2 linked regions of the Homo sapiens genome follow. The protein of the gene in region 2 interacts with the protein of the main gene of each other region in a pairwise test. Each region holds a gene or a part of one and is shown on either strand. Other genes may lie near its edges.

Region 1 (3,907 bases), on a different chromosome or scaffold from region 2:
AATGTATAGTTTACACATGCATTTCTGTTGAGATATGTAAATTCATGATTTATGAGGACATATTCTTTTAAAAGTTATACCAAATTCTTCTTATCATGAAAATCAAACACACCTGGGACAAATAGGTAAACCTATTTTGTTACGGTAATGTACACGTATTTTAATGTACTGAAAAATAAATGCATGAAAAATAATTAGAGATGTTGCCATAGTATAATTCACAATAATTAAATCTTAAACATCTACTGCTTAGACTGGTAAAAGAGAGAAGCAGTGCACACACACGCATCCCTCCCTCACTATCGCTGGGGGGCAAAGGTACTCATGTAGTCCATGATTGAAAACAGCCACTTGACAGTAGGTAAACTCCTCTGTATTGCCTCATGTTTATAGAAAGCCTTCCTTTTTGAGTCCAATACATTGGGCTCTATGCAGCAGTAGCTGCCAGGAACAAAGTTAGCTACTCAGATGGGCCAAAATAGGCAGTGTCCCAAATAATGAATTCATCCACAATGCAAATGCTGGAGGAAAGTTTATGTGGCAACAAGCTATTGTGATGGCTCAAACAGTTAGACTAATACCCTTTAGGTTCTTTACAAGTACAGAAAGTAACTAAAAACCTAAAGTACTGCAATCCAGTTAGAAAAAAAAAATATCTAGTACTCCCTTATACCAGTTGTTTCCATCGATATAAAAATTAAAGCCTCTAGAAGGTTAACAGCAAATATTCTTTTAACTTTTTTCTTTTGAATACAAACCAAAAAGCATGTTAATGATTATTTCCACTCTTCATTCAAAAGAACCACAAAAAAGGATTTTGCAATAGTCGCACAAGAAATTGACATCCTGTGAAAATATCCCAGTAAACCAAATCGGAACAAAAGACAAGAGAATCAGAGGCAGAATGCTGTGGGCTTGACAGACTGACTCAACCTAGAGGGAGACACCTCCAGCACCTGTTTAAGGTCCCCATTGTGTTTGCCCACTGGGGACTGAGCTAAGTGTTCTACTCCTGTGGCCAGCCCATAGCTGATGCTTCCCCCTTCGTGGAGCCTCGCCCAGTCTCACTTTTGACAGTTTTCTCCCTAGGATCTAAATTCTTCATTCGATTTAACGCTAGGAGAGCATTCACTGGCACACAGGTGATACACATTGATCTCAGTCTCAAATTCCTAACCCACTGAACCTTCCTTAGAGTGTCTATTACTGTATTTCTTCACTTGAATGTCTCAGCCAAAGTTCAGACACAAGAGCAAACATCAAATAGAGAGCAGGCACAATAGTATTAGGCTCTTGCAGGAGATTGACTGTAATATTTCTTTTTCTAACAAAACTGGGAGCCCAATCATTTATTATCCAACTCCTTAATTAGTGAAGTAAATTACAACAATAACAACAATAGGTGACTACCAACACATTCCACTTACAGCAGTTTAGAAACAAAAGACTTAAATAAAACCTCTGCCCCCAAGGAGCCCGTGCCGGGCCAAAACGGACTAACAGACATAATGTCATTTCATTTATAACCCACATCAAATTCAAAAAGAAATGGTTTTGGGGGATTGGGGGGTGGGGGGCGCAAAAAAAGATGAAAGCATTTTTAACTTACCATCAACCCGAACATATAAAAATCCACAGAGCAGTAGTTGTGTAAACATCAGCAGACTCATTTTGACATATTAAAAAGGATCCAGATTCTTTAAGAAACCAATCCCAGAGAGCAAAAGTACAAAAATGAGTATCAAAAAAAGAGGTAGGTCCAAAGTTTAGACTTTCCTAGATACTAATTAAAGTCAAGAAGAGCAAATCGCAAGATCAGAAGGGGTTGGTGGAGAGGTCTCGAACGGGGCACACTGAGATCCATCCAAATTAACAGAGGGTACTTCAAAGGCTGCTGTATTTCCAGCACTCTGGCTTCCTAAATTCCCACAAATTCAGCCCAGCCAGAGGGATTATTCGAGTGTGTCTAACCCTCTCTCCTTAGGCTCCACTGCAATCCAAAGCCAAGTTCTTCCTTCAGAAGTCAAGATGATGAAGGGGGAGGAAAAGACCTAATTCCTAGAAAGTGTTCCACAAACTTGCCAGCGCGCTGCCGAAAAACCATTGGCCTGCCTACTGGTTTTCTTTCCCCCGGTTTCCTTCTCCGTAGCAGCTCCACGTCCGGAGTTATTTTTTAATATGTCTATATTTTTACTTAACTTCCATAATAAGAATGTGTCAAAGCAACACTTTGCAGGCGGGCAGACTTGGCGGGCCTCTCCTTTGCAGCGGTGTTGCCCTCCCTCCACCTCTCCGGTTTCCAAAAGAGAGGAGAAGGGAAATCAGGACGATTCGGGTGGAGAATCCGAACTCCTACGTGGTGAGGGAGGCAGGGAAGGAGCGAGGGAGGGAGGGAGGGAGGGAGGGGCCGGGCGGAGGCCGAGGCTGCAGACACCCCCGCGGTGCCGCCTCTGAGGATAGTGCACCAGGCGGCTGCGGGCGCGAGCAGAGACGGGCGTGAGAGCCCAGCCCGGGCGCGGCGGAGAAAGGGAGCGCTCAGTCCAGCGCCAGGCGCGCTGAGGCCCCTCGCCCGGGTCCAGCCCCCGCAGCCTCGCAGCAGAGCGTCCGCTTCCTCCGGCAGCTGCCGCGGGTGGAAGGACTTCTAGGAGGGAAGGCGAGGAGGCGGGAGGGGAGGGGAGGAATGAGAGCTGCCTGGAGTCGGCCCGGGGAGGGGCGGGGGCGAGGAGGGGCGCGCGGAGCCCTGAACCTCCGGACTCGGCCACCCGCCCGCTGGGGAGTGGGGAGGGGTCCTGGAGAGCCGAGAGTCCCCGGGGGGACGGAGATGAACAAATTCGGAGAGCCCCGCCGGCTGCCGAGGGCCGAGGCCACCGGGCGACTCCTTCCCCTTCTCCGCGCCCCCGGGTGCCCACTCCTTCCCGCCTCGGGAGGGGATAGGTGGGCTCCAGGCTCCTGCTCCTCGCCGCGTCCCGTTTAATGGGCAGGTAATTTTCTCCGTGAGTGATTTCATGGAAGCCCTTCCTAATTATTCATCCCTCCGTCTGCCGGAGCTGCACGCGCTTTCTTGAAAAAGATCAGCCTCCAGGACCCAGGGCGCAGCCTCATTACGCGTTAAAATCACACACTCACTCACTCTTCACCTTTTAGCCAGATGAGAAGCCGAGTAGGAGGAAGGAAAGGAAAGGAAAGGAAATAGAAGCACCTTTTGGACTGGAAAGGTTGTGTGTAGATGCTTCCTATATGATTCAAAAGCACAAGGGGGAGAAAAAGGAGGGGGCAGAATTCTCTAACCTCCAGCGGCTCATTTTAGCCAAGATCTATGGCCCCCTGCGGCATCCCCAAGGGAAGGAGGAAGGGGAGGCAGCCCCTCTTATGTTACTCAGTTGCCTTTTGACCCCTCCACGATGAGTTTGATGCGCGATCGCGCAGGGCGAGGGAGTTCCACAGAAGATGCTAAGGACGGGGAAGCGGGGATCACAGAGCTTGGGGGAGGGGGATCCCCGAAGTCTTTACCCTCCAGGGACCAGCACCTCCAGAAGGAAATTCGGTAAACATAGGCTCTGGGTGTGGAAAGCCGAAAGCCCAGCTGAGCTCATGGAAGCTCAAAAAGAAGCCGAATTTCAGCCCAAAGACGACAAAACTCTGAAAATTAAGACCAAGACTACCAAAGGATGCCATTCAGGACCGGGGATGATGAAGGAAGGTCACGTTAGATCAAAGGGGTGCCGGTGTCGGCGGTGCCCCGGTGCGGCCGGGCCCACGTGTGATCACAGGCTCGCTGGTAGCCGTTTGATGCTTGTTCAGATGATGAGAAGGCGGCTTATAGGAACTCACGCAGGTCCCCGAGCCGAGCTAAATGCTGGATGGTGAGTCTTTAGTTCCCCCTACTGGAAAATATTAGGAAAGGTTC
Region 2 (3,807 bases):
GGCAGCTCCCCCACACCATAGGGCACTAGGCTGGGCAAGACCAGGCGGGCACAGCAGCAGCTTAACATTCCCTGGCTGGAGAGCTTGATTTTCCAAGTACCCAGTACGGGAGACAGTGTCTCCCAGCTTCAAGCCCAGGCAGAAGGCACAGGGCGTAGGAACCAGGGCCTGGGGATTTGCCACTTTCCATTTCTTGGGGGTGCCCAGCCTGCTGAGGGCTCACTGCTTACCCTGATCCTACCTCCCATGCGATGCATAGTCCCCACTCCCTGGCACTGCCCAGTCATAGATGCCAATCCACATACTCCTGCCCCGGGCTCCAAGGGACAGAACAATTCCGAGGCTGAGGACATAATAGTCTGCAGCCAGTGCAGTCTGTGCCGGGGGATGCGGCATGCTCAGATGCGGCCCCCACAATCTTGACCCACATCCCCAGGTTCCCAGCTCCCTCTGCGGTGACCTAGAAAGCAACCCCCCCAGCCTCCAAAGACCTGCTCAGATAGGGCTGGGAAGGGAACAGTGTGGGCAGCTGGAGACAAGTTTCCAAAAGATGGAAAGGAGCAAGGGGTTAGAGAAAGGGGCCAAGGCCAGGGGTTCTGGGGGATGGCAGAGGTTGAGGGGCCACTGAGGAGAGGCTGCAGGAGCTGGCAGGATCTTAGAACATATGCGACACAAAGTTCACAGGCCACAGACAAGATGCTGAGGAGGGGCTGGGGGTGGGGAATGGGGAGTTGCTGCAGTTCCTTCTTGGTCTGCCAGTGGCCCCTCCCCTCAGAAGGCCCAGAGGGGTAGGGCCAGGCTGGAAACCTCCGGCACAGTGAGCAGGGTGCTATGCTCCTGCCAACTCGGGGACAGGCACAGAGGGTGCTTTGTATGTGCCCGCTGCCCCACCCAGCCCCCAGCTCCCAGCCCAGTACCTCCTGCTGGCTCTGGGCAAGCTATCCAGGCAATAAAAGCACAATAAATCACCCTACCCTGACCTTGGGGACGCGGCAGAGCTTCATCTTGAGCCAAGTGTGAGAGCTCCAGCCTTGGAGCACAACCCCTCAAGCTAAGACTTAGTGCTGTGCCCCTCTCTCTAGGGCCCTCGATTCTTCCCTGACAAGCCCCAACCCTGCCGGGCACCTTCCCTTGCCCACAAAAGGACTGAAGCCTACAAAACAGTGCCCTCCTGGTAGAGAAGGATCCATGAGGGCTGTGGGGGGAGGTAAGGCAGGAGAGCAGGTGGCAGCCCAGGCAGCTTCCTTCTCCCCCAGCGGGGGAGGAGAGTTCACTTCGTGAGCCACAGTGACAACAGAAGGTGTGTGCGGTGCTTGCGCTGGTGCCCCGTGAGCCTCCCTCGCTTCCCCCACCTCCCTCATGCCTCCTGGGCTCTCTGGGGTCTCCCCATCACTCCTTCCAGGCTGTCTCCTTCTCTGCCCCACTCTGTGGGGCCCCAAACTCCCCCCACCACAAGTCTTCCTTCTTCAGTTGGAAGGTCCCCAGCCTTGCCCCAGACTGGCCACCCCTCTCCTGATCCCTTTCCTCTTCCCTGCCTCTACTCACCTGGACTCTCCTAAGATGTGGCCTAAAGGGGCAGTTGAGGGGGTGCACAATTTTGACCACTGCACGGTGCATGGTAGCACCCTGGCCCTAACATCTTCATCCTGGCCTGTTCGCCCATGCTTGCAGTCAAGAGCCAGGTCTTCCCCTCACATCCACCCAGCCTCTCCCTACCCAGCCCAAGGTGGGAGGGAGAGGGATTTCTTAAATTCTCTCCTGAGAAGATGACACTCTGTCCCTCATGCCTGCTTTGGGGCCCTTCCACACACCCCTCTAGGTGGGGAGGTCCTTCCAGGTGCTGAGCCACACTGCCCACTTGCTGCAGCTCTGACCCTTCATTTTCCTGTCCTGGGGAAAGCAAAATAACCCCTTCCCTTCTCTCCTCCCTTCCCAGCCTCTCCTCTCTGTTCCCAACCCTGGCAAGTGGGCTGACAGGTATACCTGTTGACCTTGGCTGGTGCTGGGAACTTATTAAACCCTCCCCCGAACCACTTCCCAGCATACTCTTCCGGTAGCTCTCCCTCCCAACCTCCGCAGGAGCGGAGGGGGCTGGCCGGGCAGGAAGAGCCCCAGGCAGGAGTTGAGGTGGGGGGTTGGTAGGCAACAGGGCTTAGTCAGGAAGAGGCCCTCCTATGTCCTTCAGGTATATCTCCCCAGCTCCCTGACTAGAAACGAAGCCTCCTCCAGGTTGGCCCAGAAGTCCCCCTCTGACTCGCATCTCTTTCTCTTTGCACACCTTCTTCCCTCTTCTTGGACCTGGGATGCCCTTGCCTGCCTGTTAAATTCCTATGATCCTTCAAATCCAAGCTTAAACATCTTTGTGTACCTTCCTTGACCCTTTTCTTTTTTTATTTTTTCCCGAGACAGGCTCTCACTCTGTAGCCCAGACTGGAGCACAGTGGTGCGATCATAGCTCACTGCAGCCTCAAACTTCTGGGCTCAAGCAATCCTTGTGCCTTAGCCTCCCAAGTATCTGGGACTATAGGTGTGCACCTCTATGCTTAGCTCACTTTTTTTTTTTTCTTGAGACAGAGTTTTGCTCTTTTTGCCCAGACTGGAGTGCAATGGTGCGATCTCAGCTCACCACAACCTCTGCCTCCCGGGTTCAAGTGATTCTCCTGCCTCAGCCTCCTGAGTAGCTGAGATGACAGGCATGCGCTACCACGCCTGGCTAATTTTGTATTTTTAATAGAGACAGGATTTCTCCATGTTGGTCAGGCTGGTCTCAAACTCCTGACCTCAGGTGATCTGCCCGCCTCGGCCTCCCAAAGTGCTGGGATTACAGGCGTGAGTCACTGCGCCCGGCCCGCTTAGCTCACTTTGTAAATTTTTCATAGAGATGGGGGTCTCACTGTATTGCCCAAGCTGGTCTCGAACTCCTAGGCTCAAGCAGTCCTCCCGCCTTGGCCTCCCAAAGTGCTGGGATTTCAGGTGTGAGCCACCTTACTTGGCCCCTCCCTGACCCTTTGAGGCAAAGAGCCCCAAGGGGGCAGGGACCAAATCTGACTCATCTTATTCTGCCCAATGCCCACCAACTTGGCCTGGCATATACTAGGTGTTGAGTAAGTGTGCAAAAGGAATGGCTTGCTTTTCCATGGAGAAAGGGAAGCAGGAAAGAGGAGACCAGTGTGCAGATCTGTGCAAATGGGATGCAAATGGGAGGGGAGGCCAGGGGTGAAGCCCACAGGAGAAGGCGCCCTGGATGAGCAGGGGTGGGAGGTGGTCCACCACAGGCTGGTGAAGAGGAGCTGCAGGTGGAGTCCCTTCCACGCGGATGCCTGCTGGTTGTCTTAGGCCAGCCATCTCTTTTCTTTCAAGCCCACAACCCGATGTTAAGGCCCATAGCTGCCCATTGCAGCCTCGGGACTCCTGTGTTTTGCAAGGCCAGACTGAGAAAAAATTGGTCTTTACGTTGGGTTGTTGCGCCACGCTGACAGCGGGCTATGTGTGGCGAAACAATCCCTCCCCACTGACAAAAGCTCCCCTAGCGTCTGCCCAGTTCCAGGGATCAGGCGGACAGCCAGGAAGGTCGGTGGGGGTATAGTACCTTTCAGCGAAGGTGGTGTGTAGGCACAGGGGTTGGGTCTCTTCGACTTGAGATGGTGCCCCTCTCCTGAGGCTCTCTGCCAGGGGAAGTGCCAGGTTAAAGGGGCTCAGCAGAGGCCCTTGCCTTCACCATCCCTCCATTCCATCCCACCCATGGCCACCCAAGCAGACTGATTTAGCCACTGCTAATGGGTCCTGCACCTAGGCTGAGCCTCCCCA

Evidence for each region.
Region 1: the proteins of PPP1R1B (region 2) and ROBO2 interact in a two-hybrid assay, tested with the Homo sapiens proteins (one large-scale study listed by IntAct).

Annotation. Positions count from the first base shown.
Region 1 is NC_000003.12:77,038,549-77,042,455, reverse strand, and holds the start of ROBO2 (roundabout homolog 2 isoform 23 precursor), read right to left. Parts: upstream 2,358-3,907; 5' UTR 1,671-2,357; coding exon 1,610-1,670; intron 1-1,609. UniProt on the Homo sapiens protein: Receptor for SLIT2, and probably SLIT1, which are thought to act as molecular guidance cue in cellular migration, including axonal navigation at the ventral midline of the neural tube and projection of axons to different regions during neuronal development.
Region 2 is NC_000017.11:39,629,830-39,633,636, reverse strand, and holds part of PPP1R1B (protein phosphatase 1 regulatory subunit 1B), read right to left. Parts: intron 3,666-3,807; coding exon 3,590-3,665; intron 1-3,589. UniProt on the Homo sapiens protein: Inhibitor of protein-phosphatase 1.